Linked DNA regions of Homo sapiens. The protein of the gene in region 1 purifies or fractionates together with the protein of each later gene. This does not show direct contact. Each region holds a gene or a part of one and is shown in the gene's direction. Other genes may lie near its edges. The genes, in order: THYN1 and SHPK.

The links.
Region 2: the proteins of THYN1 (region 1) and SHPK purify together in Homo sapiens (affinity purification with mass spectrometry; 2 studies listed by BioGRID and IntAct, with this or other methods). This does not show direct contact.

The regions. Positions count from the first base shown.
Region 1 is NC_000011.10:134,247,718-134,250,612, reverse strand, and holds the end of THYN1 (thymocyte nuclear protein 1), read left to right. Parts: intron 1-269; coding exon 270-338; intron 339-692; coding exon 693-785; intron 786-1,350; coding exon 1,351-1,446; intron 1,447-1,653; coding exon 1,654-1,804; intron 1,805-2,128; coding exon 2,129-2,175; 3' UTR 2,176-2,331; downstream 2,332-2,895. UniProt on the Homo sapiens protein: Specifically binds 5-hydroxymethylcytosine (5hmC), suggesting that it acts as a specific reader of 5hmC.
Region 2 is NC_000017.11:3,615,480-3,619,303, reverse strand, and holds part of SHPK (sedoheptulokinase), read left to right. Parts: exon of another isoform or gene 1-240; intron 241-3,766; coding exon 3,767-3,824. UniProt on the Homo sapiens protein: Acts as a modulator of macrophage activation through control of glucose metabolism.

The DNA.
Region 1 (2,895 bases):
GTAAAATGCAAGTAACTAGCAGATTACTTTATCACCTAGATTATTCATTCAGCTAATCCTCATAATTAGCAAGGATAACAAGGTAACACAAGGCTTACTTACATTCACCCAGCAAAAGTGTCTCTGTGGAGCCACTTCCCGGTGAACTACATACTTCCTCTATAGCCAGTGGCCCCTCTCATTTTAGGGGAAGGAACTGTCTGCTTCCATATGTGCTTACTAACTGGCCAAGGATTGTTTAATGATTGAATTTATTTCCTCTTGCCTAGTTCAGCATTGAGGATCTCAAAGCACAGCCCAAACAGACAACATGCTGGGATGGTGTTCGTAACTACCAGGTAAGAGGGTAAGGAGGAGGTCGCCTGAGACCCAGGTGGGATGAATGCCTGCCTCCTCCTCATGACGTACTCAGTAGCAGAACCTCTTGGCCAAGGTTGCTTTTTCTCAGAAGCAAACCTGATAATGTATTAAAAAATGCCTTAAGTACTCTGCATGAAATTTTCAATTGGCCTGTGTTCTGGCCAATGTCCTGGTAAAAGTCTGGGTGTCCTGGCAAAGGGGAAGGACTTTCTAATGAATTGAGGAGTTGCAGACAAGAATCACCCATCTATTAAAAGCAGACTTGATTTCTGCTAAAAGCTAGTACTTTCCAGCTGGTGGGAGGATAGTTACTCTTTCTTCTCCCGGGACAGGCTCGGAACTTCCTTAGAGCCATGAAGCTGGGAGAAGAAGCCTTCTTCTACCATAGCAACTGCAAAGAGCCAGGCATCGCAGGACTCATGAAGGTTAGTTGGGCAGGTTTTGGTGTGAATCCCTTTTCCTCCAGGGAGACTAACTTAAGTAGATATAAAGGGATATACCTTAATTAGGCAACAAAAAAGTACACTCCCCCCCACCCCATCCCCCTTTTACAGGAATAGGGAAAAACTGCCCTGGCCCCTTCCTATCTGATAACTCAAAGCAGGCCTTCATTCAGGTCCGACTAGCACAGACTTCACTCCACCTCTAAGTCTTGATCTCACTCGAAAACAGGCCTGATGATAGCTCCTCCAAGCTTATCAGGATAAAATTATTAACTGTGCAGAGGGGAAAAAAACAGTGGTACCAGTAATAACCTTTGCCATTTGTTTTTAGAGCATGTTTTTAAGACTTTTGTAAAAACAGAGTTGATTTCCTAGTCTATATATTAGACTATATATTGTTTCCAAATATCTGAGCCCCCATTGGCTGTACAGCAAGGCAGATGGGTTAAGAATGTGCAGGGAAGAAATGAAAGTTGGATATGGATTAAAAGATTGGCTGTGGAGCTGACTGCAGGCAGATGATTCAAAGCTTTTGTTTTGGTTTCAGATCGTGAAAGAGGCTTACCCAGACCACACACAGTTTGAGAAAAACAATCCCCATTATGACCCATCTAGCAAAGAGGACAACCCTAAGTGGTCCATGGTAAAGACTATGCTTTCTATTTCATGACAGGGGAAGGATGAACCAGGGGAAGAAGACGGTTGGGGTGACTGTAGGTCAAGGTACACGGCCCAGCACTTACTCAGATGAGGTGATACTGAGATAGGAGCTTCCTGTGGGCGGTTAAAAATACAGTGGGCACAGTCAGCCTAGACACGTCTTTCTGTCATGTACACTGTTGTCACATAGGTGGATGTACAGTTTGTTCGGATGATGAAACGTTTCATTCCCCTGGCTGAGCTCAAATCCTATCATCAAGCTCACAAAGCTACTGGTGGCCCCTTAAAAAATATGGTTCTCTTCACTCGCCAGAGATTATCAATCCAGCCCCTGACCCAGGGTAAGAGTGGGCCCTCTCCTTTATTGTCCATATACCAGAATGACCTCATGAATTCCCACTTACTAGCTGATTAAACTTGGGCATGGTACTTCACCTTTCTCAGTCAGCATCCTCACCTGTAACACCCATGAGGGAGGGAATGTGGCCAGAGTTACCTGTTACTATTACCCAGTACTCTATAGTGCTTGGCACCTGGTAAATAGTTTTGAACGAATGACTGCTCGCCTTAGTACCATGTAAGATGTACCTGTGCCTGGCACAACTTTCCTGTTCAAGAGGGGACATTAAAAACTAATCCTTCCTTTTTCCCTTTTTTTTTTGTAGAAGAGTTTGATTTTGTTTTGAGCCTGGAGGAAAAGGAACCAAGTTAACTGAGATACTGCTGCTGGAATGGGCGAGACATTGCTGCAAAGAAGTCAAGCTTTTTTCAGACAAAAGGTGTGAGGGGGCTTGCTTGGTATGCTTACCTGGGCTTGTGTACCTCAGTGGTTTTTGTGTACTTTTTTCAATAAAATATCAAAGTTGAAGAACTTTTCTTCTAAAACCACACTGAGTGCAGTGGGATACTCCCCACTGCAGACCTCTTACCTCCAGGCGGGCTCCTTTGGCCGCTCCCAGATGCAGAGCTGCCTCCACCTTCTTTCTTTACGATCACTAGTAGTTCTGTAGCAAATTGCATGACGTAGGGCTGAGATCCTCAGTCTGGTAACACCCACTGGAATGAACTCTTCTTTCTACACCAGCCTTGCTCACCTGCCCCTTTCATCTTCTGGGTCCCACAGAGGTTTAAACCATCCCATGAGCAGTTCTGGATAAACTGCCAGATAGGGATAAGAACTGAATTCATTTCTCAGCCATGTGCTTGTCTCAAACAGGTGGCTAATAAAGTATTCATCATTTTTCACCCGGGGCTATACAGTGAGAGCACAGGCACTATGTAGGGAAATCAGGGCAGGGATCTGTCTTTCCCTGAGTGTCGGAGTTGGGACCATGTAAGACGGAAGAGACCACAGAACTTGGTGGACCGTGGGCACAATGCCTCCAAAGCCACAGGGGCTTTCTTTAATCAGAAAGACCATTAAAACAAACGT
Region 2 (3,824 bases), on another chromosome or scaffold:
AGAGATGTGAAGCTGGCCACGTTTATTGAAAAAGCAGCTTCTTCTGTGTGATTTCTTCCAAAATACATGTAAAATCTTACACACATCTTAGCTGCAACGTAGGCTGAAGGCAATTTACGTGAACAAATTGAGTTGTTCTTAAGGCATCATCTCTAGAGGCAGAAAAAAAAATAACAATTTAAGTTATGTAAATTTAGTTTGCCTTTATATACTATGTTTTGTAAAATCAGTGCTTATATACAAAATGATTAAACTTGAAAAAAAAAAAGTGAGAACATGCTAGTGGGATTGTAAAAAGGTACGGCCTCTTTGGAAAACAGCTGGTAGTTCCTCAAATGTTAAACGTGGAGTTACCACAGGCCCCAGCAATTCTGCTCCTAGAAATACACCCAGGAGAACTGAAAACAAATGATATCCACACAAAAAGTTGTACACAGATGTTCACAGCAGCATTACTTATAATAGCCAAAAAGTATAAACCATCTAAATGTCTGTCAACTAATGAATGAATTTTTTTTTTTTTTGAGATGGAGTCTTGTTCTCTCACCCAGGCTGGAGTGCAGTGGCACAATCTCAGCTCACTGCAACCTCCGCCTCCTGAGTTCAAGTGATTCTCCTGCCTCAGTCTCCCAAGTAGCTGAGACTACAGGCGCACGCCACCACACCCAGCTAATTTTTGTATTTTTAGTAGAGACAGGGTTTCACCATGTTGGCCAGGATGGTCTCGATCTCTTGACCTTGTGATCCACCTGCCTCGGCCTCCTAAAGTGCTGGGATTACAGGCGTGAGCCACTGTGCCCAGCCATGAATGAATTTTTATAATGTGGTATATACACATAGCTAAAAAAGGATTGAATGTTGGATAGAAGAAGTACATTTAAATTTTAAAAAGTTTATTTGGCTGGGTGCGGTGGCTTACACCTGTAATCCCCGCACTTTGGGAGGCTGAGGTGGGTGGATCATGAGGTCAGGAGTTCAAGACCAGCTTGGCCAAGATGGTGAAAACCCATCTCTACTAAAAATACAAAAAATTAGCCAGGTGTGGTGGTGGGCACCTGTAATCCCAGCTACTCGGGAGGCTGAGGCAGAGAATTGCTTGAATCCAGGAGGCAGAAGTTGCTGTGAGCTGAGATCGCGCCAGTGCACTCCAGCCTGGGCAACAGAGTGAGACTCTGTCTCAAAAACAAACAAACAAACAAAGAGTTTATTTGAAGATGCAGTGATTTGTGAATCATGGTAGCACCAGACTCCTAGCACTCTGCCAGGAGAGGCAAGAGGGGAAATTTTCATAAAGTATTTGCAGAAGCAAGACAAAACAATTTTGATAGGGCAGACAAAGCATTTTTTATGCCAAACAGGGATATCTTTCATTATTGCTCTGAGCTCAAGATTTTGACGAAGGCATAAGAATGCTTAAAAAGCAGATCTGGTTAATCTGAGAGCCTGACTTTTATAAACAGTTATCTAGTTCTCCTTTTTAATTTTTTTTTGACTTTGGGGTAGGAGGTAAACAGGCAAAAATGTCAGCAGATTCAGTGTAGGGAGAGGAAGGTACAAAGAAAGAGAGGTCAGAAACTTTTACCTGCCAATCAAAAATATATCCCATTGTTTCTGAGGTGTTTGGAATTGTTTGTTTGTTTGTTTAGGTTAAAACTTCCTTATGTGGCCACCAAAATTCTAAATTATTTTTGGTAAGATTCACTCATTTATCTAGAAAAGCAAATGTTCTGAGATGGAGTCTCAGACTCCCTGAATTTAAGTAAACCCATTATTTTCTGTCTTCCTGGAACCTTTTCTACTGGAGGTCTTTTACTAAACCCAATTTAGTTTCTGTCTGACCCAGTTGGACACCTGAAGCTTCCCTTCAGCACCTGTTCCAGTTTCTGTCATGGCTTCCAAACCCAGTCCAGATTTAAAAATGCCCAAATAACTCAGTGAACTCAACACAAGTTGTGGAGTTCATATGTCCAAGAGGGCTTACTGGAGAAGGCCTCCCAATGTGCAGCAGGAAGCAGTGAGTGCCAAGGCTCAGTGGGTACTTATGCCCGTTTGCTTGTTGCTCCCAGAGGTCATCGTGAGGTGGGTGGGTTCAGATCCCACTTACGACACCAGATCTGATTAAAGAAAAACTTGGCCGGGTGCATTGGCTCACACCTGTAATCCCAGCACTTTGGGAGGCTGAGGTGGGCAGATCACTTGAGGCCAGGAGTTCGAGACCAGCCTGGCCAACATGGTGAAACCCCATCTCTACTAAAAATATAAAAATTAGCTGGGCACAGTGGCGGGCACCTGTAATCCCAGCACTTTGGGAGGCCGAGGCAGGTGGATCACGAGGTCAGGAGTTCGAGACCAGCCTGGCCAACATGGTGAAACCCCACCTCTAATAAAAATACAAAAAATTAGCTGGGCGTGGTGGCGCATGCCTGTAATCCCAGCTACTTGGGAGGCTGAGGCAGGAGAGTCACTTGAACCTGGGAGGCAGAGGTTGCATGAGCGAAGATCGCGCCATTGCACTCCAGACTGGGTGACAGAGCAAAACTCTGTCTGAAAAACAAAAGCAAAAACAAAAGCAACAACAAAAAGAATACTTTGGAAATGAGCAAGAGTAGTATTCACTGCCAATGAATGAAACCTCCTCAGAGACTAAAGCCCTTGGTCTGAGGTCTTACCCTGTCATAGTTTTCTTTTGCTGTGTAACAAATTACCCTAATACATAGTAGCCTAAAACAACAGACATTTATTATTTTGGACAGTTTCTGAGGGTCAGGATTCTGAGTGGGGTGGGATGTCCTGGCTCAAGGTCTCTCGTGAGGTTGCATTCACTCTGGAGCTGCAGTCTTCCAAAGGCTTGATTGAGCCTGGAGGATCTGCCTCTGAGCCCACGCTTGATGCTGTTGGTAGAAGGCCTCAGTTCCCTGGCACGTGAGGTTCTCCACAGGGCTGCTCACGACGTGGCACCTGCCTTCCCCGAGAGCAAGTGATCCACAAGACAGCGTGACCGAGATAGGAGTCGCAGTGCCTTTTATGACTTAGCCTCTGAAGGCACACACTGTCTCTTGTGCTTTATTTTGTTCACTAGAAGTGAGTCACTAAGTCCAGCCCACTCTCACGTGGAGGGGAATCAGGTTCTACCTCTTGAAAGGAGGAGTATCGGCCGGGCACGGTGGCTCACACCTGTAATCCGAACACTTTGGGAGGCCGAGGTGGGTGGATCATGAGGTCAGGAGTTCGAGACCATCCTGGCCAAGATGGTGAAACCCCATCTCTACTAAAAATAAAAAAATTAGCCAGGCGTGGTAGTGGGTACCTGTAATCGCAGCTACTTGAGAGGTTGAGGCAGAGAATTGCTTGAACCTGGGAGGTGGAGGTTGTAGTGAGCCAAGATCGCACCATTGCACTCCAGCCTGGGTGACAGAGCGAGACTCTGTCTCAAAAAAAAAAAAAAAAAAAAAATTCCTTTGATCAACATCTCTTCAACACCTTGCCCTTCTAACTATCCTGGACATATTTTTAAAACCCCACCCTCTCTCAGTGCCAAATTGTGACTTGTGACCTCTGAGTTAGCCCGACAGGCCACCCCCTCTCACTGCCAAACTGTGACTTGTGACCTCTGAGTTAGCCTGACAGGCCACCCCCTCTCACTGCCAAACTGTGACTTGTGACCTCTGAGTTAACCCGACAGGCCACCCCCTCTCACTGCCAAACTGTGACTTGTGACCTCTGAGTTAGCCCGACAGGCCTAAGCTCTGCTCTCTTCGGACCCCAGTTCTCAACATCAGCACCTCGGTTCAGCTGGCAGCCTCCATGCCTTCAGGATTCCAGCC